Regions from separate parts of the Homo sapiens genome. Here region 2 is linked to region 1. Evidence: fine-mapped expression QTL. A gene starts in region 1. The other region holds a variant in brackets. All regions are shown on one strand. Distances are between the middles of the regions. Region 1 holds the start of RHBDD3 (rhomboid domain containing 3). Region 2 has its middle 9.5 kb from the start of AP1B1.

The links.
Region 2: its variant is fine-mapped to the expression of RHBDD3 in prefrontal cortex (GTEx, PIP 0.98).

The regions. Positions count from the first base shown.
Region 1 is chr22:29,264,880-29,275,126 of GRCh38, forward strand. RHBDD3 (rhomboid domain containing 3) reads right to left here and starts at 3,102. Exons shown (of 7, transcript NM_012265.3): 1 at 2,869-3,102; 2 at 2,547-2,698; 3 at 600-789. The coding sequence starts at 747. EWSR1 (EWS RNA binding protein 1) reads left to right here and starts at 3,389. Exons shown (of 17, transcript NM_005243.4): 1 at 3,389-3,470; 2 at 7,337-7,373; 3 at 7,501-7,552; 4 at 8,862-8,985. The coding sequence starts at 3,458. RefSeq lists enhancers at 2,981-3,852, 3,245-3,304, 3,415-3,474, 4,937-4,986 and a silencer at 3,645-3,734.
Region 2 is chr22:29,392,948-29,403,194 of GRCh38, forward strand. It overlaps a transcript of RFPL1 not described here. Among named protein-coding and RNA genes, the nearest start is that of AP1B1, 9.5 kb to the left of the region's middle. The variant A/C (reference allele first, on the strand shown) is at 5,091.

The DNA of each region.
Region 1 (10,247 bases):
CCATTCTCCTGCCTCAGCCTCTCGAGTAGCTGGGACTACAGGCACCCGCCACTACGCCCAGCTAATCTTTTTGTATTTTTAGTAGAGACGGGGTTTCACCGTGTTAGCCAGGATGGTCTCAATCTCCTGACCTCGTGATCCGCCCGCCTCGGCCTCCCAAAGTGCTGGGATTACAGGAGTGAGCCACTGCGCCCGGCCAATTTTTGTATTTTTAGTAGAGACAGGGTTTAACCATGTTGGCCAGGCTGGTCTCGAACTCCTGACCTCAAGTGATCCACCTGCCTCAGCTTCCCAAAGTGCTGGGATTACAGGCGTCAGCCACCTGGCCTTAGTTCTTATTTCAAGGAAAAGCTGCTAGAAAGGGAAACCATGAGAAAAGCACTCCTACCCATAGGTTCCAGCCCACCCTAGGGAGTCCTCTGCCTCCCTTCTTGGCTGTGGATGTGCTGGGCATGCTCCTGTCTAAGGCCATGCTTTCCCGGGACACTGGGCCCCATCCCTGTTTGACCCCTGGAGGCCTTGTGCTGCTCCTGCCAAGTGGGCCCAGGCCCTACAGCAAGTCTCCTGCTTCCTCCAAGGTCCACGTGGCTGGCCCTCACCCTGCCAGGGGTCCAGCAACAGCTCCGGGGCCAGGACCAGGCCGGGGCCGGCCCCCACCAGCCACAGGGTGCTCATCAGCAGCATCAGGACTGAGGAGGCCAGAGGCAGTGCTGGGGACAGTTGGCCATGGGGGCCCCTGGCATGCATCGCTTGGTTGAGGACGGTCAAGGGTGGTCCTGGGGCTGTGTGCTGGGGATAAAAGAAAACAATAACAAGTTATTACTGGAGCTTTTATCTCACCAATACCCTCTCAAGCACCTTATCAACAGCCCTATTTTACAGAGGTGGAAACAGGCTGGAGACGCAGGCCCAGCAGCTTGGCCTTAGTGGAGCTCAGACCCTAACCCATGCGCTCATAAGCCATCTTACCATTCCACTCACCTCTGTTTAAGGACTGGCAGGGGACAGGCATAGAGACTTCTGAGTCCTGATAGGCCCTGAACTCCCAAAAAGAGGGGTTCAGGCCCTCACCCCCCAGGGCGAATTCAGGGCCATCTCTAGCCCTCTTCTGTCCTCCCCCTTCCCTCAGACTACTACCTCCCTCCTTCCTCCCCTCCCCTGTTCCCAGCCTTAATGCTCCAGATGGTTTCAGTTGCCCTTGACCCTGGGGTGGGGCCAGACAATGGGCAAGCCGACAGGGTAAGGGGTAGGGCAGATGGGCAGAAGTCCCACATCTTGAGCCATACTCAGAGACCTGCGACTGAGACATCCCCTTTGAGGGTGAACCCATCCACTGTAAGCCTCCTCCTGCTTCCTTACTGGCACAGCCCCTCTGGCCCTGGCTCCCCTTTCCACAGGAAGGGTACAGTATGCGCTCCACCTCTTTCTGCTCTGTGTCCTGAGGCAAGTTTCCAACCTCATCTTTTTACAGATGAGCCTCATTTTACAGATGAGCCTCTCCTTTCTCATCTGTAAAATGGAAATTCATAAATTCTTTTCCTCAGAGTATGATGAAATAAAAAGGAATAGGCTAAGGCAGGCCCTGGCCCACAACTCTTCCTCCATAAACCATAGCAATCCGCACTAATCATGGCAGGCGTCTGTAGCCACCAACTGGCCCATCGAGAAGGCCTCAATATGGAGGTGGCTGCTCCAGCCTAGCTGGTCCCAGCTTTGGCCCTCAAACATGGCCTTTCCCTGCCCACCAAAGCAAGGCCTTCTCCCCCGTGCTGTTCTCTTGCATCCAGCCTGTCCTCCAGGGCCTGTAGGTCTTCACCCCTGGTCAGGCCTCTCGGTCCCAGGACTCCCACTGAGCTGATTCAGGGCAGGAAGCAGGATCCCAGAGAGACAAGAAGGCTGCCTAATTTGCTCCCCTGCCAAGCGCCTTCTCCACATCTACCAGTTTCCTGCAGGAAAAATGTGGAAAGCTCCTCTGCCTGCATTGTCCTTCCCTCCATTTTGCCAGCAGGCAAACTCCTATTTCACCCTTGGAAGCCCAGCTCAAATATCCCTTCCCCTCCTCTGGCCCCCTAACATCATGGATCTTATCCTTAGGAGCACAGCTTGGCCAGTCTGTCTCCCTAGGCAGGTGGTCTGAGCTCATGGCTCCTCTGATCCAACCCCACATTCCCCAGGGTATTCACAGCACACAGCCAGTGCTTTATATATGTTCACTGAAAAAAGGACACTAGCTTGGCTCCTGGTCCTGCCGAGGGATTTGAAGGTGAACCCTGCCCTTCGCGGACCCGGGCATCCACCTAGGGGGCTGGGGCTAGAGGTCCAGGAAGGTGGGCAGGGTCAGCCTTGCCTGGAGGCAGGGTTTGGGGCCAAGGCACCCACCGTAAACCTCCTCCTGCATCGACACCTCACAACCATTCCCCAGCTCTGGGCACCTTAGCAAGGGTGAAGGGCTTACCCGTGGACACTCGGAACTGGGACTTGAGCCCCCTGGACCTCACTTTCTTCAATCTATGAAACGGGGCAGTGCACCACCAGGCCCTGCCTACCTTACTGGGAAGCCGGGAGGGCAGAATGGAAAGACAAGGACGGAGATTCTTCCGGTGGCGGATAGAGTAGGGGGTCCCAGGATCTGTCTGGTTCGAACTCAGCTGGTGACTTTGCAGAGATACTCAATTTCCTTGGGCCTCAGTTTCCCCTTCTGTAGAAACAAGGATATCGGATGAGGGATGATTAAAGGGCCTGCTCCACCTCGACCGTTACCGGGGATAGGGTCTCGGGGCCAGGCACGGCGTTCGAGGCCTCCCACCCAGCCGACCGGCCTTGGGGACCCTTCCCCGCTGGCCCGGGCCACGCGTCCCGGGTACTCACTGCAGAGCGCGCCCGGCAACCCCGAAAGGCCGGTCGGGGACCCCGGCTGGGAGTCAGGACTCTAGCTCCCGGGCGCGACCCGAGAACCCTGAATCCATTCCGCGCACACCCGGCCGCGTGACCCCTGCCGACCGGCTGGCGCGCCACCCATTCCCCGCGGCCCGCGGATTAGTCAGCAGTTGTTCTAGTCCGGGTCCCTTCCCCCAGCCCTCCCGCCGATCTCCGTCTCCCTGCAGGGCCGACTCTTCAGCGACCGTCCCTAGAGCCAGCGGACGGAACCATTCCAAACAGCCTAGTCTCGTGCTGAGAGCCTCTCCGGTTTCACGCTGAGACCCGCTCACCCCCGCTCTGGCCCCTTAGATGCTATTTTGGCCCGAGTGTCACGTCGGGCGCTCTTTAGAGAGGACTGGGACAAGAGTTGCGGACGCGAAGAACGAGTAAGCGGTGGTTCATCCCTCCTGACCCCACCCCCGTGGCCTGGCCCGATGGTCGCGCCCGGGGTTGCGAGATTTGCGCCTGCGCAGTGCGGCGCCTAGAGGGAAAGCGAGAGGGAGACGGACGTTGAGAGAACGAGGAGGAAGGAGAGAAAATGGCGTCCACGGGTGAGTATGGTGGAACTGCGGTCGCGCCGGCGGTAGCCGGAACGCCCAAACTGGGGGTCGTTCGTCTCTGGGCTTGGCTGGGAAGACTGAGTGGAGTTGCCGAGAGGGGGTTGAGGCACCCGCCGCGGCCCGACGAGCTCGGGGATCCGCATTCCTCTCCCCTCCCCCAACCGGGCGGGCCGGTTCTGGAATCTTCCGGCGCCCGTGGCGCGCGGGGGGCTTGCTGCGGCGGGGGCGCGCGGGGCCCGCCTTGGCCTCCATTGTGTGGCGGTCCTCGCGCCCTGAGCTCCGGGCCTCCCGCCACGTGGGCGGGGCCTGCGGCCTTCGAGGCCCTGCGTGAAGGGGAGGATTTGGCCAGGCCTCAAGCCGGTCACTATGAAACCGCCGGGGGGCCCGCAGGCTGCTGTCCCTGTGAGGCCTCCCTCCCCGTTTTCAGGGTTTCCTGAGAAACCAGGGGAAAAAGCAAATAAAGATACCGTGGATTTGTGGGCCGAGGGGTGCCGGCCTATGAGCGGGAGCCCCGTCATCCTTAAGACCCAGTCGGCTGGGGCGTCTGGCGCTGCCGAGCTGCCCCCTCTGTGGCTTCCAGCCCCAAGCCGAACTTCTGCTCGCCTGGGCTTTAGACAGAATGTGCTTCCCTCCTCCAGGGCCCCCAGTTTGCCGCTTTCTTGGGCTTCTCCATTTTTATCGTTATTAATCCACGTCCTCCCCTCCCCCAAAACCAATTAAGTGGCTTCCCAGGGCCCTTTTTCTGCAAACGCCGAGGGACATCCGTTGTATAATAAGGCCAGCCTGGGTCGAGAGACGAGAAACGCTACCAGAAAGATATTTCTGGTCTCTCTGACCTAGGAGGAACAAAAGGCCGAGCCTTCATTTGAATTATGTTTCAGCAGTGGCCTCGCACGTTTATTCGCCTGCGTTAGGCCGGCAGGCCTGTTGATTTCGTAGGTCGACAGAGGAGAGGGGAAAAAAGGCCAGTAGAAGCAATCTTAAAGGCACTTGCAAGCAAGCCCCGGTTGGGAACTCCAAAATGGGAGTAGAGTGGTCCTTGATGGAAGGAGCGTTTAAGAGTGTCGCCTAGCCATCACCTGCAGTTCGCAATCTGTGGGTACACTAACCCGCGAAAATTGGCAGGGTGGAGCATTTTTGCCCCGGGGGTATTCTCAGGCCACCTGGTTCCAGGCCTTAGAGACAGTGGGAGAAGATGAGAAGGAAGACAGGAAAAGTTCTGGGCACTCCAGAGTTTTTGGAGTCCAGAATCCAGCAACTTAAGGACAGTTTAAGAATTCTCCCCATCTGTGGTCAATAAACAGGTAAGTGTTGGCTGTTCGTGCCGGGATACCAAAGAGTGGATACCAAAGAGTGCCGGTAGAAGAGAGGACTGAAATACCACAGCTAACCTCCCGGTGGGAAGTGGTTTCCTAGGTGCCCTATCCACCCTCTTCTGCTCTGCAAAAGCCTGAAAAGGCAAAACGTGTGCGTTGACATTTTTGCGTGGCTGGACGTGCCTTTTTTCAGTCAACTTTGTTCAAACCTTGTTCACCAGTAACTACCATGTGCTGTACTGTATTAGAATTACAGTTGTGGTTTCTGTTGACACAAAGTAAACACATTAGGCCTGGCTGGGGGGGCCTTCAGAGAGTCACATAAGTAATCTGGTCCTTAGTTTCCTTTCCTGTAAAATACAGAAGTTAGGCTAGACCTCTTAAGCTTTTGAGCCCTTCTGACCTTCCAGCATAAGCATTCCACAAATTTGTCCTATGCTGACTTCAGCTCAGGTACTGTGAAGCTCAACTCAGGTAGTGTGAAGCAGCTTCCATAGTGACTGCTCTAAAGTGTTAAACCGTTGCCTTGGGTTAATAATAGAAGTTTTCTCTCCTCGTATGTTATCTCATGTAGAAAAGTACGTAAAGCATATATATCCAGTGCAACAAAGAATTGGAATGCAGACTCGCAGCAATCTAGAACCCCCAGCGCTCAATCACAGTGAAGTGATTTTTAGTGAAGTCAGTGGCTCACTTTTGGGGGTTAAAAACGAACACGGTTGCTGAATAATCTGACCAGTTTGTAATTGTATTAGGTTGGTGCAAAAGTAATTACGTTTGCATCAACCTAATAGCTTGCTTGAGGGCCTGTGATGTTTGTGTGCTCTAGGAAGATAAATGTAAGTTCATGAAACAAATTTGCTACCTTCTATAGCCCACCAGTTAGTATAGGGCCGAATCCTGTGGTTTCTCACTGATAAGAGGTCATTGGTTGTTCCATATCAGCTTTGCCAGTTTGATGTTTTACATAACTGCTCTTGCGTAAAAGTCGTCTTGCAAACGTTGAACTTACATGACAGTGATTTACAATCACTTCTCAAGCAAAGACCTCAACAAAACGTGGGTTAAAATATTTGATGTTAAATGATTCATTGCTGTGTTTATTTTGTAGATGCCACATGGAAAAAATGATCTGCATTTAGTTTTAATGTCAGAGAGAGTATGACTTGTAGTGCTATTGAAAATGCCTTTAAGATTGTCATGAACAGATTATTTTTTTCATTATAGGTTAGCCTTTGGGCAGTTGATTTGTTCCTCTTGGTGATTCAGGGTTTTGAGTTAAGAGTGTGTACAAAGGAAAGAAAGTAGTCCAGTAAAGTACAGAGAGGTAGGCAGATAAGCCAACGTGAAGAGATGGATTCAGCAAAGCTCTCTCAGGCCGCCGAGGGATTGTGAGGCTGGCTTTGGATTCCATGAAGTGGATGCCATGAAGAGCTGTCAATTGTTGGTTTTGGATGAGGGACTACTTTCTGATTGGAAAATAAAGGACCCCTTTTTTCCGTCCTAATGGCAGTACTGTCTTCAGACAGAACAAGATATGTGTTCTTGTGGAGAAGAAAGAATTGGGCAGAATTTTCAAAAATAATTACTTTAACTGCCTTTAAAAAAAAACTAAATTTATCTAACTTTAATGCAGTAGCGCTCTGAAAACTATTTTCCGTTTGTTTTTACTACTTGTAGACACCTCAGTGGACCAGTTTTTGGTCCCTTTGGATGCATGTTATAAATTTCATAGGAAAAGGAAAATTATAGGGAGGTTTACTTAGATAAGGGATGAAAATTCATGTCTTTTTTTTAAGTTGAAATCATTTTGAGTTGTATGAAAGACAATGGTGTTACCAAATTTTTCCCAGAAAGACTAAATGCTTTTTCTTCTTTGCCAGTCTTCAGGGTTCTGCCTTAGCTCTGCTTCACCAGGGTTTATAATATATCTAGCTTTTAAGTTGCTGCACAAATATAGTTCTGACACAGCAAACCCTTTAAAACACTGGAGTGTGGTGACTGCCTTCTTGTCTGCCATTCCGTTTCACTGTCGTTGAGCTAGGGAATGATGGTTTGTCTAACTTGCTAAAGTGAGGGGAGTGAAAACTAATTTTTGAGGAGAGGTAGGTTCTAACGTAACCAATCTAGTGTTAAACTTTGTATTATTGTTGCATGCCTCCGTTTTATATGAGGGTAGAAACTTCTGATCCTGTTAGTAGATCTTGTTGTCAGTCTGTGATATTGATGATCATCCTGTATTTTAAATGACAGTTGGGATTGGGATGGGTTTTGTGGTCATGGGAACATAAAAAGTATACCTGCCAAATCAGCTGATCTTGACCTCATTAGCTAGTCCCACAGTCAAATGTTGAGTTTAACTGGTTTAGACTTTTTTTTCTGTTAGATGTTGAGAGGTAAGGGGGACTCATTTGGACCTGTGTTGGCAGGTCTCCCTACAGTTTAAAGAATTCTTCCTGCCACGTGAATTCTTTCCCCCTTTTTTCTCTTCTCCTTGTTTCTGCTAACTTTACACTATTTTTCCTCCTTGTTTTCCTCTAGATTACAGTACCTATAGCCAAGCTGCAGCGCAGCAGGGGTAAGTCAGTCTTTTATAACCGTATTTTGTGTGTGATTAATATTTTTTGAATATGGAGCCTTCTATAATTGTAGAGGTGGTATTTGAATGTTCTCTATTCAAGTTATTGCATTTAATTCTTTTGCAGCTACAGTGCTTACACCGCCCAGCCCACTCAAGGATATGCACAGACCACCCAGGTAATCTTTAAAATAATTACATGTAGCTGCACCTCCAAGTAAAATCAGTATATTATCCAGTTATCTTTCAGTTATCCAGTAAAACAAATGAGTAATGTGTTTGGAATAGTAAAATACCCAGGCATTTTAAACTTTCACAGTGGGAGTGCGAAGGACTCCATTGTGCCATCATAAATGAAACCATTCAGAAGCTGATAATTGACTCTTTATAACTTTTTAATATGATTTCTCAAGTTAGGTGCCCTGTTCCATGCTTGGTCCTTCTTCATTATGTTTAAATTTAGTGAATTTATTCATCATAGCAATTCTGCAAAGGAAGAGGATGATATGACCATTCTGCAGAGGAGAACATTGCAGTGCATAGATATTAAGTAACTTGCCAGTGGTTGCACAGTAAGTGGCGGGGTTAGCTCTAAAAACTGGCGACCTAGCCAAGGAGCTGCTGAGCTCTTTCCAGTGAAGAGTCTGTTGAAAAGCCTAGGCCAACAGATTCTAGAAATTAGCCTTCTAGTGTTTTCAAGATAATGTTGAATTCTGAAATGATCCATGCCATAAAATGGATACTAATAACTGCCATGGAAACATGTTCTAGGACAAGCAGAATGTGATGTCTCTGGCAGATCTTACATAACTGGTCATTTAAACAAACCTAGAGAATAATCATGCTAATATCTGAAAGAACAACTCTTCCTTGCCTGATTTTAAGTATTATGGATGTCTAAGTTCAAAAGACAGTACTCTTGATGTGCCCACCATAAGAGGACATACAGCGTTCTGGTTCATTTTCTTTGAAGTGGTATAGTAGTTTTAAAGTCTTTTTGTCAGGCTGAAAATCTGGTTTTCAATTTTTTCTGACAGATTTTAGCCCTCTTCATTGCTTTCTCTGTTCATTTGTCTTCGTACCTTTTGTTTCCAATCACTAAAACTGTGCTACGCTAAGTGCTAGCAGTTAATACACCTGTGCCCTTATTGCTCTTCCCTTGAGAGTGTCTTGTTAATCTCATGTATAGTTAACTGAGGTTTTGCCTGATTATCTTTTTTTTCCCCCTTTTGAGAAGCTGTGAATGACATTGCCTACTTACCTAATGAGCTTTTTCCGTAGCTAACTTTACCATAATATGAGTGAACCAGATAAGGGATAACATTCATGATACTGTGATTATTTGTCTTGTTTTGTTGTTTTTGTTTTGTTTTTTTAATCTTCTAGAAAGGAATGTTTTTGATTTTGGTTCTCCAATTTAGTCCATTTTATTGCTAAAATACAAAAGTTCATGTATGAAGTTCTTGCATTCGTTTTTTTTTGGAGCAGGCATATGGGCAACAAAGCTATGGAACCTATGGACAGCCCACTGATGTCAGCTATACCCAGGCTCAGACCACTGCAACCTATGGGCAGACCGCCTATGCAACTTCTTATGGACAGCCTCCCACTGGTAAGGCCTGCCTTGGAGAGATTTTTGGGTCGTTCTGGCTAGGGCATTGGCTAAGAAGCTTATTAGTCATGCTTTCGGATGTATATTCTGGTCCATACCTTGGCATCTGGGGAATCCTTTATTCTTAGGAAGAGGTATTTTTTCTCTTTCTTCCCTACTCTTATAGTCTTGAGAGATCTCCAATAGAATGTGGGTGGGATAAATTCCAAGAGAGAAAAGAACTTTTAACTGTTTGAATAATCTCACGATGAAATGGAGACTATGTAAAAGATTTTGCTAATGCTAATACTGAGTAAGAATGAGTCTTCTTAAATTGAGCTGCTTAAAAATCAAACTGGTTTTCACATGTTTGCTTCATCTGATAGTGTACCCTCTACTTTTTGTTTTGTGCTTTCCACAGTAGAAGGGACCAGTACAGGTTTGACTATCCTGCTCATTCTTGCATGGGAAATGCTTTCCATCTTGTCTAACCCTGTAATGTTAATCCTTTAGGTGTTTTCATTTGTTGAACCCCCAAACTTTCTAACATCACACACAGCAAGGTGCTAATGAAAAACTGCTTCAGGTGCCATTTGCAGATCCATGTCCTATTCTTTATATGATTTTGGGAAAGGTTTTTTTATTTAATATTACTTTGTTTCAAGCCTTAATAATAGTTATTTACCTTCCCAAAGGTATTTCAGGTGATTTCTCCCCAGCTGATTTTCCCCTGTTCCCTGAAGGATAGATTGCATGATGAGATTTATTTAGAGGAGCAGACTGCCACCCTGCATGTATCATGTTTGTCTATTGGTTGGTTTCTAGTCCAGACACATTTTATTTTCTGTTTTAAGTGTTATGAATTATTTTAATCCATGGTATGTCTTGAATATATATAACATTATTCCAAGATACTAAAAAATAAACTATTCTAAGAATTAGAAGAAATTGTATTCCGATACTGAGGTTGGGTGGGATACATGAAAAACCTATGATAATTTTTTTGTGTTCAGTGCTGTGTAATGTTTCAGGCTGTCTCCCCCTGCCCTTTTATTATTGCTGTTATAAAAGACTCTAATAAAGTCTTAAAGATATCAGAGCTCTTATTTTCAAACTGTCTTTAGTTCTCCAAATTATATATAGTCCAGTTAAGGGGAAAAACCTGTCTGTAATTTATCTCATTGAGTACCAGTGTCCTGATTTTGATGGGAAGTAATTCCTAACCTCTTCTAGGGTGTTTCTCAAATAGGATGGGAAATGTTTATCTAAACTTTCTAGTGGTG
Region 2 (10,247 bases), 130 kb after region 1:
AGCCAGGAACACTGGGGATGCAACAGTGAACAGGGTATGGCACAATCCCCCCTTGGGGGCTCACTGTTGAGTATGGGAGAAAGATAAACAAAGGGACAATTATAACTCAGAGTGGTAGGAAGTACCAGGGAGGCACAGGGGATGCAGGCACCAAATTCAGCCTGGGAAAGTCAGGGAAGTCTTCCTGGAGGAAGTGACACCCAACCTGAACTGTGAAGGGTGAGACTACTACTAATAGTTAACCATTAACCAGGCACTGTGTGAAGCGCCTCTGCATATTAACTCATTAAACTTTCCCAATAATTCCATGACAGTTCCATGACTGTCCCCAAGTAGAGATAAGGAAAAGACCAGTGGGTAGAACTGATTTCTTCCCTACTTCCATGAGGGCCTGGACCTGCTCTCCCACAGCATGATCTGGCAGGAGAGCTAAAAATATACTAGTAAGAGGAAGTACAGTTCAAAGTAAAAGGCTGGATAATTACAGCTTGCAGAGGTGGGTGACAGAAGTGGGGAAGGGAGCATCTAAGGGAACTTCCCTCTCTGCCCCCACCACTAAACCCACCTAGCTACACTGCCTGAGTCATCCACACCATCAAATGCTGACAGCTACAACTGGAACTGCCACACCTGGGGCACATGTGGGTGCCCCGGCCCTCTGAGACCCCAGGCCCAGGAGAAACTCCTTGCCCTAGGATGTGGGGAGCAGAGCCAATGGTAGCCAAGCCCACCTGGATAGAGAGAGAGAGAGAGAGAGGGCGCTGGCTTCCTCCCAAGAAATACATACTTCCTGACAATAATACTACCTCCTGGCTAGTTTTTATTTTTATTTATTTATTTATTTTGAGACAGAGTCTCACTCTTTTTGCCCAATCTGCCTACCACACCCAACTAATTTTTGTATTTTTAGTAGAGATGGGGTTTCACCATGTTGGCCAGGCTAGTCTCGGAACTCCTGACCTTAAATGATCTGCCCGCCTTGGCCTCCCAAAGTGCTGGGATTACAGGCATGAGCCACCACGCCCGGCCTATTTTTATTTGTTTTAGAGATGAGGTCTCACTATGTTGCCCAGGCTGGTCTCAAACTCCTGGCCTCAAGTGATCCTCCTGCTTTGGCCTCCAAAGTTCTGGGATTACAGGTATGTGCCCCTGTGCCCAGCCAGGACATTTTAAAACTTTTCTCCAAGCCCCAGTGTTTTTATACCCTGCCCGATTTGAGCTGGCTGGTGGAGACAGGGCTGTCCAGTTCTTTGTTTTTGAGACAGAGTTTCGCTTTTGTTGCTGCAAGCTCCGCCTCCTGGGTTCAAGTGATTCTCTTGCCTCAGCCTCCCGAGTAGCTGGGATTACAGGCCTGTGCCACCACTCCTGGCTAATTTTGTTTGTTGTTGTTTTTGTTTTGTTTTGTTTTGTTTTGAGACGGAGTCTCGCTGTGTCGTCCAGGCTGGAGTGCGGTGGTGCGGTCTTGGCTCACTGCAACCTCCACCTCCTGGGGTCAAGCCATTCTCCTGCCTCAGCCTCCCGAGTAGCTGGGATTACAGGCACCCACCACCATGCCTGGCTAATTTTTGTATTTTAGTAGAGAAAGGGTTTCACCATGTTGGCTAGGCTGGTCTCGAACCCCTGACCTCAGGTGATCTGCCCGCCTTGGCCTCCCAAAGTGCTGGGATTACAGGCGTGAGCCACTGCACCGGGCCTGGCCAGTTCTTTGGGCCTCAGTTTCTCTTCTCTGCGAACTGTGCACCCACCATGGGCCAAGCATCGTTGTATGCCCTTGACATCCATCAATTCATTTAACTCTCACCGTTCTCAATAGGTAGATGCTAAGATAACCCCATTTTACAGATGAGGCCACTGAAGTCCTGAAATGTTGAGGGACTTTCCCAGCTTCCCAAAGCAGCAATGGGCCTAGCGGAGAGTCAAGGCCAGGGCTGATGACGGCAGGCCTCATGCTTTCTTCTCCACTCACCCTTACCTGCTTCATGAGGTTTCATCCAATGCCAGGAAGGTTGAGAGTTCGTGCGGTCTCGTGAAATGACCCACTGTGACCCCTGCCACTGGCATTCTGTGACCCTCAGCAAGTCCCTTCCCCTTTCTGATACTCAGAATCTCAGAGCAAAGTCCTTCCCATCCTCCCTCCACAATGAATGGGTGCATAAGTACATGAACAAATTAAGTATTCTTCCCCTCTGCGCCCACTAGAGTGCGCACAGGTGCCACTAACCGCCACCGTTCCCTTCAATTGCCATCCTTTCACAGGGGCCGCTGTGCCTTTCTATATACATTCCCAGCCTTTCCGCACTCTTGTTCCTCTGTGATTACTATTCCTCTACTCCAGTCTCTGTTTGCTTGCTGGTTTTTGTTGTTTTCATCCTGCAAATCTCTAAAAGTTGCCACAGAGCCTTTCTAAAAGGAGGCAGGAGGTGGCTTTGTCCATAGCCTCAGGAACACCAGCCTCCACCTGCTTGCTGAGGGCAGGCAGCTTCCCATCCCTCCCGCCCAGCCCAGGCCTGGCACAACCCCCAGGGCAGAGAGGCCTAGAGCTTGCCAGGGATCCCAGCCTTTGCCTCCAGCTCTCCTTGCTGCAGATGTCCTCAGTGCACCATTTCTAGTCTTCCCAGTAGCAAATTCCTGCTCAGCCCCTCCTAGCTGTACACCACAGGCTCCCTCTTGAAGAGCTCTGCTCTCTCAGGTACCCCTGTGCTGAACTACCCTCCGCCGATGCATCGAAAAAGCCCAGGCTCTCAGATGGGCACAGTGGCTCACACCTGTAATCCCAGCACTTTGGGAGGCTTAGGCAGGTGGATCACCTGAGGTCAGGAGTTCCAGACCAGCCTGGCCAATATGGTGAAACCCTGTCTCTACTAAAAACACAAAAATTAGCTGGGGATGGTGGTGAGTGCCTGTAATCCCAACTACTAGGGGGGCTGAGGCAGGAGGATTACTTGAACCTGGGTGGCAGAGGTTGCAGTGAGCTGAGATCATGCCCGTCCACTCCAGCCTGGGCAACAGAGCGAGACTCTGTCGAAAAGAGAAGAGAAGAGAAATAAGAGAAAAGAGAAGAGAAGAGAAAGAAAAGAGAAGAGAAGAGAAGAGAAAGAAGAGAAGAGAAGGAAGAGAAGAGAAGATAAGAGAAAAGAGAAGAGAAGAGGCCCAGGCTCTCAACCCCACCTGGGCTCAGATCTTCAGCTATGGGACTTCAGTTTCCAGTCTGAAAAATGGGACTTGCTATGGTTTGAATGCATCCCCCAGGAAGCACATGTTGGCAGTCCCCACTGCAACAGTGTTAGGAGGTGGGGCCTAATGGGAGGTGTTTGGGTCATGAAGTCTGTACTCTCATGAGTGGATTAATGCCAATCACAGAAGGGCTTGAGGCTGTGTGTTAGATCTCTTGCACTCTCTCTCACTCTCTCTCTTTCTGCCATGGGAATATGCAAGGAGGCCCCCACCAGATGCCGAGCAGATATTGGCACCATGCCCTTGGACTCTGGACTTCAAGAACCATGAGCCAAATACATTTCTGTTTATTATAAATTACCGAGGTATTCTGTTAAAGCAGCACAAGACAGACTAACATAGGTTGGTTGTGCCTTCTTGCAAGGTTGCTGTAGAGATTAAATTGTAGAACTAATGTACAGTGCCTGGCATCTATAAGTCCCCCTTAAATGGGAGCTTTTGTATTAATTTAATTTGTATTAATTAAAAAAAAATAGAGGTTGGAGGGAGGTCTTACCATGTAGTTCAGGCTGGTCTCGAACTCCTGGCCTCAAGTGATCCTCCTGCCTTGGCCTCCCAAAGTGCTGGGACTACAGGCACGTGCACCACACCTGGCTAATTTTTGTATTTTTTGTGGAGACAGGGTTTTGCCTCATGTGCTCAAGTGATCCACCCACCTTGGCCTCCCAAAGTGCTGGGATTACAGGTGTGAGCCACCACACCCAGCCTGAAACTTCTTTTTTTTTTTTTTTTTTTTTTTTTTTGAGACGGAGTCTCGCTGTGTCGCCCAGGCTGGAGTGCAGTGGCTTGATCTCGGCTCACTGCAAGCTCCGCCTCCCGGGTTCACGCCATTCTCCTGCCTCAGTCCTCCCGAATGGCTGGGACTACAGGCGCCTGCCACCGCGCCCGGCTAATTTTTTTTGTATTTTTAGTAGAGATGGTGTTTCACCGTGTTAGCCAGGATGGTCTCGATCTCCTGACCTCGTGATCCGCCCACCTCGGCCTCCCAAAGTGCTGGGATTACAGGCTTGAGCCACCGCGCCCGGCCACCTGAAACTTCTTAAGTAGTTCCCACAATGACATAAGTTCAACAACTGAGACAAATCTCTTAATCTATATGCCCTGGTGTTTCCGTTTCTGTGCTTGAACCCTGACTGAATTGGGGGGATACACTGATTCAGGTCTTCAACTGGTTCAGCTCTAAGGCAGGTCCTTAGAGCGTGAGGTCTCCAAAACCCATCAGCCTTGGGTCCTCCTGGTGGGACTTGCTCAGAGTCCAGTTTTCCTAACCGCCCTGTAGCTACCAGTGGCTGGACGAGGACAGACTTTTCCCAAGCCAGTGCCAACAGCAAGAAACTGCAGTTACCTGCCGACCGATGGGCCAAACAGAACAAAAGAAAACCCAGGATTGGACCTAAAAACCAGATCTTCTGTATCAATAGAGGGTCTTTTGATAAGTGGGCATCTTGGAACTGGGGCACTCTGGGAACAAAAGTGGTGATGGGACTCTGTGGGTGAGTGTTAACCCCCATTCTCCTATTGGGATAGGGTTACATGCTCCCAGGAGTGGGGTTTGGGTCTCTGCATGCAGATTGGGACCCTGCTTGAGTAGTGCCCACTTCTAGTTGGGTAAAGAGGCATGTGGAAGCTGAGCTTCCATCTGGGGCTGAGCTGGACTTCATGACACCCAGACTCTCCAGCCCGGGCCTTGGCTAGTTCCCAGGGGGCTCTGAGGCCATGTCCAAGGGGACAATGATGGCCCTCAGTGTGACAGGGTGGCTGGGAAGTGGGAAGAATCCATGGAAGGGGGGGTTGGCATCTGGCTTGCCCGAGGGGTCTCCCACATCGAGCAGGGCAAATTCCCCACGCAAAGCAGC[A/C]AGCTGCACCTGTCAGAGCTCTCAGTGCTGTGGCTCATCCGCTCTACCCTGGGCAGCTGGTGGTACGAAGCTGGTTAGTGCCATCTGAGACCACCACTGGGGCTGCACTCATGGGGGTGTGGGAAGGCTGGAGATGGCAGGCCTCAGCCTCATGAAGATCTCTGTTACTCCTTTGCTAATTACCAACAGTGATCCACTGACCCCAGTTCAGGCCTCAGTTTCCCATCTGTACAACAAGGGGACTGGACTGGATGATCACTCATTTGGCTTCCAGCTAGGACTCGTAATAATGGTGATGATGGTGATGATGATGGCGGTGCCATTTGCCAAAAACTCACCATGTGCCAGACTCCACGCAAAAATCATGAAACTGGACTGGCTCCCTTAATCTGCAAAATATCCCCACGGGGCAGGCACAGTTGTTATCCCCATTTCGTAGTTGAGGGCATGCAATCCTCGTGCAGTTGGAAAGGAGCTGAGCTGGGAGGAAGATAGGACAGCCACATGGATCTAGATCGGGACCCAGGTTCTGCTGTTTCTAGCCGTGTGACCCTGAGCAAGTCACTTGCCCTTTCTGTGCCTCTGTCTCCTCTGATGCCCATTCCTCGGGGCTGCTATGTGGCCTAAAGGAGGCAATGCACTATGCGTGGTGCACAAAGAACACACCGTAGTCATCAATCATTGTGATGATTATGGTTTTTCTTTTAGTCTCCCGTGTAGCTAGGTATGGCCATATGACTAACCTTTAAGCCAATGATTTGTAAGCACTGTCCTATGTGGAACTTCCAGAAAATCTTCCTTCTTCTTCCTGTCCTCCATCCTGCTCTCTGGAACGAATATACAAAAGCTGAAGATCAACAGCCACCCTAGGCCACAAAGATAGCAGGGATGGGCCACACTGTCTCTTGACTCCCTTACTAGAAGACAAGTTACACAAGAACAGAAATCTTGTTTATCTTGGTCAAAGCGACCTCCAGAACACTTACAAAGTGTGTGTCACGTGTTAAGGGCACAGGTATTGAATGACTATTGAATGAATAGGTGAATAAATGAATTTACTTCAGACTCACCAATAAATAAGGTTTCAGCTTCCTTCATAGAATTAAAGTATTGATTAATTTAAGTCACATTACTTCTATTTGCTTTCCTTTGCTCTCCCAAACTTGCACCTGTCATAGAAGGATAGTGTTTTGTTTTTTTAAATGTGCTCCAGAATTCCCCTCAAAAAAAAAAAAAAGTTTTAAAATCTATTTTCATGACAATGCTTCCCAGTATAGTCCTGCTTAGCAAGTTTAAAATTCTTCAGTTTTCTTGGTCATGGATACGTATTTTTGTGTACGTCTGTTGTTAAATGGAGGCACTGATTTGGAACAAAATAGACCTCACCTCAAGTCCATAAGAATCATCCAAAATGGTATCTAATGACATTCCTGGGACCTCAGCCAATATTATTATTGACATAGAATGCAGTCACTGGGTCCTGAGGATTTCATCGGATGTTGGTTGCTGAAACTGAACTTTATCGGGTCTTTTCCCCTTCCACTGTGGTTTTCCACATTTCAACATGTCACCTAACTGTCCTCAAACTTTACTTAAATCTTTTCAACTAAATGGAATCTTTATTACCCCTGCTCCTCTGCTTTTTGAAGCAACCGTTTTCCTCCTGTGATAACACTCCCTGTGGCCCCTTTTGTGGCCCCTTTTGTGGTCACAGGGTTTGTAAACATTCAGACTTTTTGCAACTACATATACTTTTATTCTTATTTTTCACTCTTCTCGCAGTTGTTGCTTTTTCTTTTAACTCTTTGAGGGAGTTAATTAGCCCCCTCTTCAACTTTTGTGATGCACCTATTCATATTTGAGCCTCTGGGTTTTTGCTCAAATTGCTTTTCAATTTACTCACTGTTGAAGAAAGCCATTATTTGGGGATTGTAAGGTGTATCAAGCTTTTCTTTTCTTTTTTTTTTTTTTTTTTTGAGACAGCGTCTGGCTCTGTCGCCCAGGCTGGAGTGCAGTGGCGCGATCTCGGCTCACTGCAAGCTCCGCCTCCTGGGTTCACGCCATTCTCCTGCCTCAGCCTCTCAAGTAGCTGGGACTACAGGAGCCCGCCACCGCTCCCGGCTAATTTTTTTGTATTTTTAGTAGAGACGGGGTTTCACTGTGTTAGCCAGGATGGTCTCGATCTCCTGACCTCATGATCCACCCGTCTCAGCCTCCCAAAGTGCTGGGATTACAGGTGTGAGCCACCACGCCCGGCCTATCAAGCTTTTCTAAAGTGTAGACTTCTCTATACATAATTGCCTCTTTCCTAGAGTAGTTATCTGACAAGTCTATTCAGAGAGCTGGTCATGAAAAGAGCTTTTTGTAAACCTCTCCTTTAGAAGAAATGTCTCTAGTCACACAGTGCTTTCTCCCTTCTTGATTTTGTATCAGTCCGAAGCTAATCTGTCCTCACTCTGGATTGCATGAACTTGTGCCTTCTTGGGCATCATGTGTTATTAATTCTCCCTCTCTTCCAATTGTAAACATGTTTCCTTTATTGGTTCTTACCATTTAGGATAAAAGTATACTCATCTTTATGGGGGGGGAATGAAAGCTTTCTTAACCATATATCTCCCTTCAACTGTTCCCACATCTCTCTTTTCAGCCATACTTTTAGGAGGAGAAGCCCTCAGTTGATGTCTTTACTTTCTCACCTCTAGTTCACTCTTTCCCCACTGCTGACGCTCAGCTTACTCACACACATCCTCAATCACTGAGTTGCCACAGGCAATGGCATCTGTGGCTTTTCTGCCTTCTTGGCAAAATATGGCTCTGTTGATTGGGGTATTAGGTATAAAGTACCTACTGACCAGGCCCTGTGCTAGGTGAGGCCATTACAGAAATGAGAAGCAGACACCACCTCCATTCCGATGAGACCCACCAGATCAGCCATTGCTGATGAACACTCAGGTGCCTTGACTCTCACTTTTCACTTTTGCAGTCTTTACTTCATGCCACGTACATTTCCCTATTCCCCAAGCCTCCTTTCTCTCCAAACCCCTCCCCTTATTAGACACAGCCTTTTAAAGCAGTCACGGTCATACCCATGGCTTCAATTGTATTGTATATGCTGTTATGACAATAGAATTTAAATGTTGTTCTTATATAACAGTTTTATTTTACGTGACACCTCATTCGCTACAACCATAAATTCAAAGTTTCCCTAAGAAAGTAATCACTAAAAAATTGTCATATTCTTAGTATGTAAATTTTAGGAAATTTCCTTAATGATTTGAGTTACTGTGTGTGTGTTACTTTTGAAAACATGAGTTGGGATGTCACAGAATGGACTTAGCCTACAGAGGTTTATATCCAATTTTCAACCAGACGGTTCCATTTCAATGTGACACTTAAAGAGTTCAAAACTGTCTCATTCCCCACACCTCTTTCTCGTCCTACATTCTCTGTCTAGGGGAGAATCACTGCTATTTACACAGTCCATCAAACTAGGGCCTTAGCAGCCTGTTTTTCCTTCCCCTCTTCTTCCACGTCTAATCACCAAGCACTTCCTCTTCTATCTCCCAGCTGATCACAAAACTTTTCCTTCCACTTCAGTCACTGCTGCTGCCTTTTTAGCCTTACTGTTCTCCAGATGAACATAGAGTATCTTAATCAGCCCCACTGCTTTCATAAAGCCCTCTCCACTGCGCAGAGTGACGTCACTGCAAACACATCGGATAGAGACTCTTCACCCCTGTGTGGTTCAGTGACTCTCGTTTCCAGAATAAAATTCAAACTCTACCCCAGCATCTAATTTTGGGTCAGATAGATCTGCGTTTTCATTCCAGGTTGATTCACTGTCCAGCAGTGTAGCCTCAGACAATTGAATCCTCTAAGCCTTTGTTTGCTCATCTGCCTGAACTCACGGAGGGTTGGGACTGTTTCACACATGCAGTATTGGCACTTAGACTTAATGTTGAATGAAGGGGAGGCATTTTAAAATCCACATCAAAAAACTGTTATTCTTTAAAAAAAATACTAATCTACAAGGTCACTGCCCCTCCAAGCATGACGTCTACCTTTACTTTCTGATAACCATGATCGGCTTGTGGGGATCAAGATTACTCAGGATTAAATCCTAGCCCCATCTTGAGCCGTCATGGAAACTTGGAGAAAGCTACTTAACTTCTCCATCTAGATTGATTCTGTAAAATCCATAAAATGGAATGGTTTCTGGGGGTTAAATTAGTATACCACAGCTGGAACACTGTCAGGCTTGCCAGATATTTACTATTCATCTTCATCAAATGAGGACAGTGGTTCTCAATTTTGTATAAGAAAAACACGCTTTATGCATTGTTAGTAAAAGAAATATCTGAATATCCCTGCCATGGAAGAAAGAAACAGAGGGAGAAAAGAGAGTTGGTAGGTCCTAGCATTTCAGAACTGGGAAGGATGAGTTCAGTCCCTATTTTATAGACAAGGAAGGGAAAGTGTGATGTGTCCTAGGGTTTCATTCAAGTCACAGTCATCACGCTTTATCGAGAGTGGGACCAGGGCTCTAGGAGTTGCTATGGTCAAGTTGAAGACAAAAACTAACACTTGTAAGACAGGAGAGAAGCATTTACTTACAAAGCAGTCCGAAATTTGTGTATAACTACATTTGGTGAGCAAACGAAAGCTGCCAGACTCAGAAAAACAGAGATGCTAATGGAACTGACTTTAGTAACCAGGGTTTTCCATTGAGTTCATTGCCCGGGGTGACTTCCAATAACAACCCCCGCCCCCCTGCACTTTTCTCAGGACTGGAAAGCTCAGGCAGCCCAGGACGAATAGTGCAGTCACCACAGAGGGACAGGGTGGCCACAAGGTGGGCAGCAGCAGGGAGGTGTGAGCCATTGGTTGGGTCTGTGGGGTCGGCCATTGTGAGCCACTAGCCTGACTTGGTTGTTTCCTGGTAACCAGGTGACATAGGAGGCTTTGTGGGTACTAGCCATTGGGCAGGGCCAGCAGCCTTCAGTAGCTGGTAGTGGAAGGAGGAGCTCTGACTACACTCTCACGACTGTTTTTTGCCTCTTGGTTCTTGTTATGTCCCTTTCTTTTTGAAATAAGACAGAAGGTCCCCACCTTCATAGACATAGAGAGATCCCATCTTATTTGTTTTTAAAAATAAAT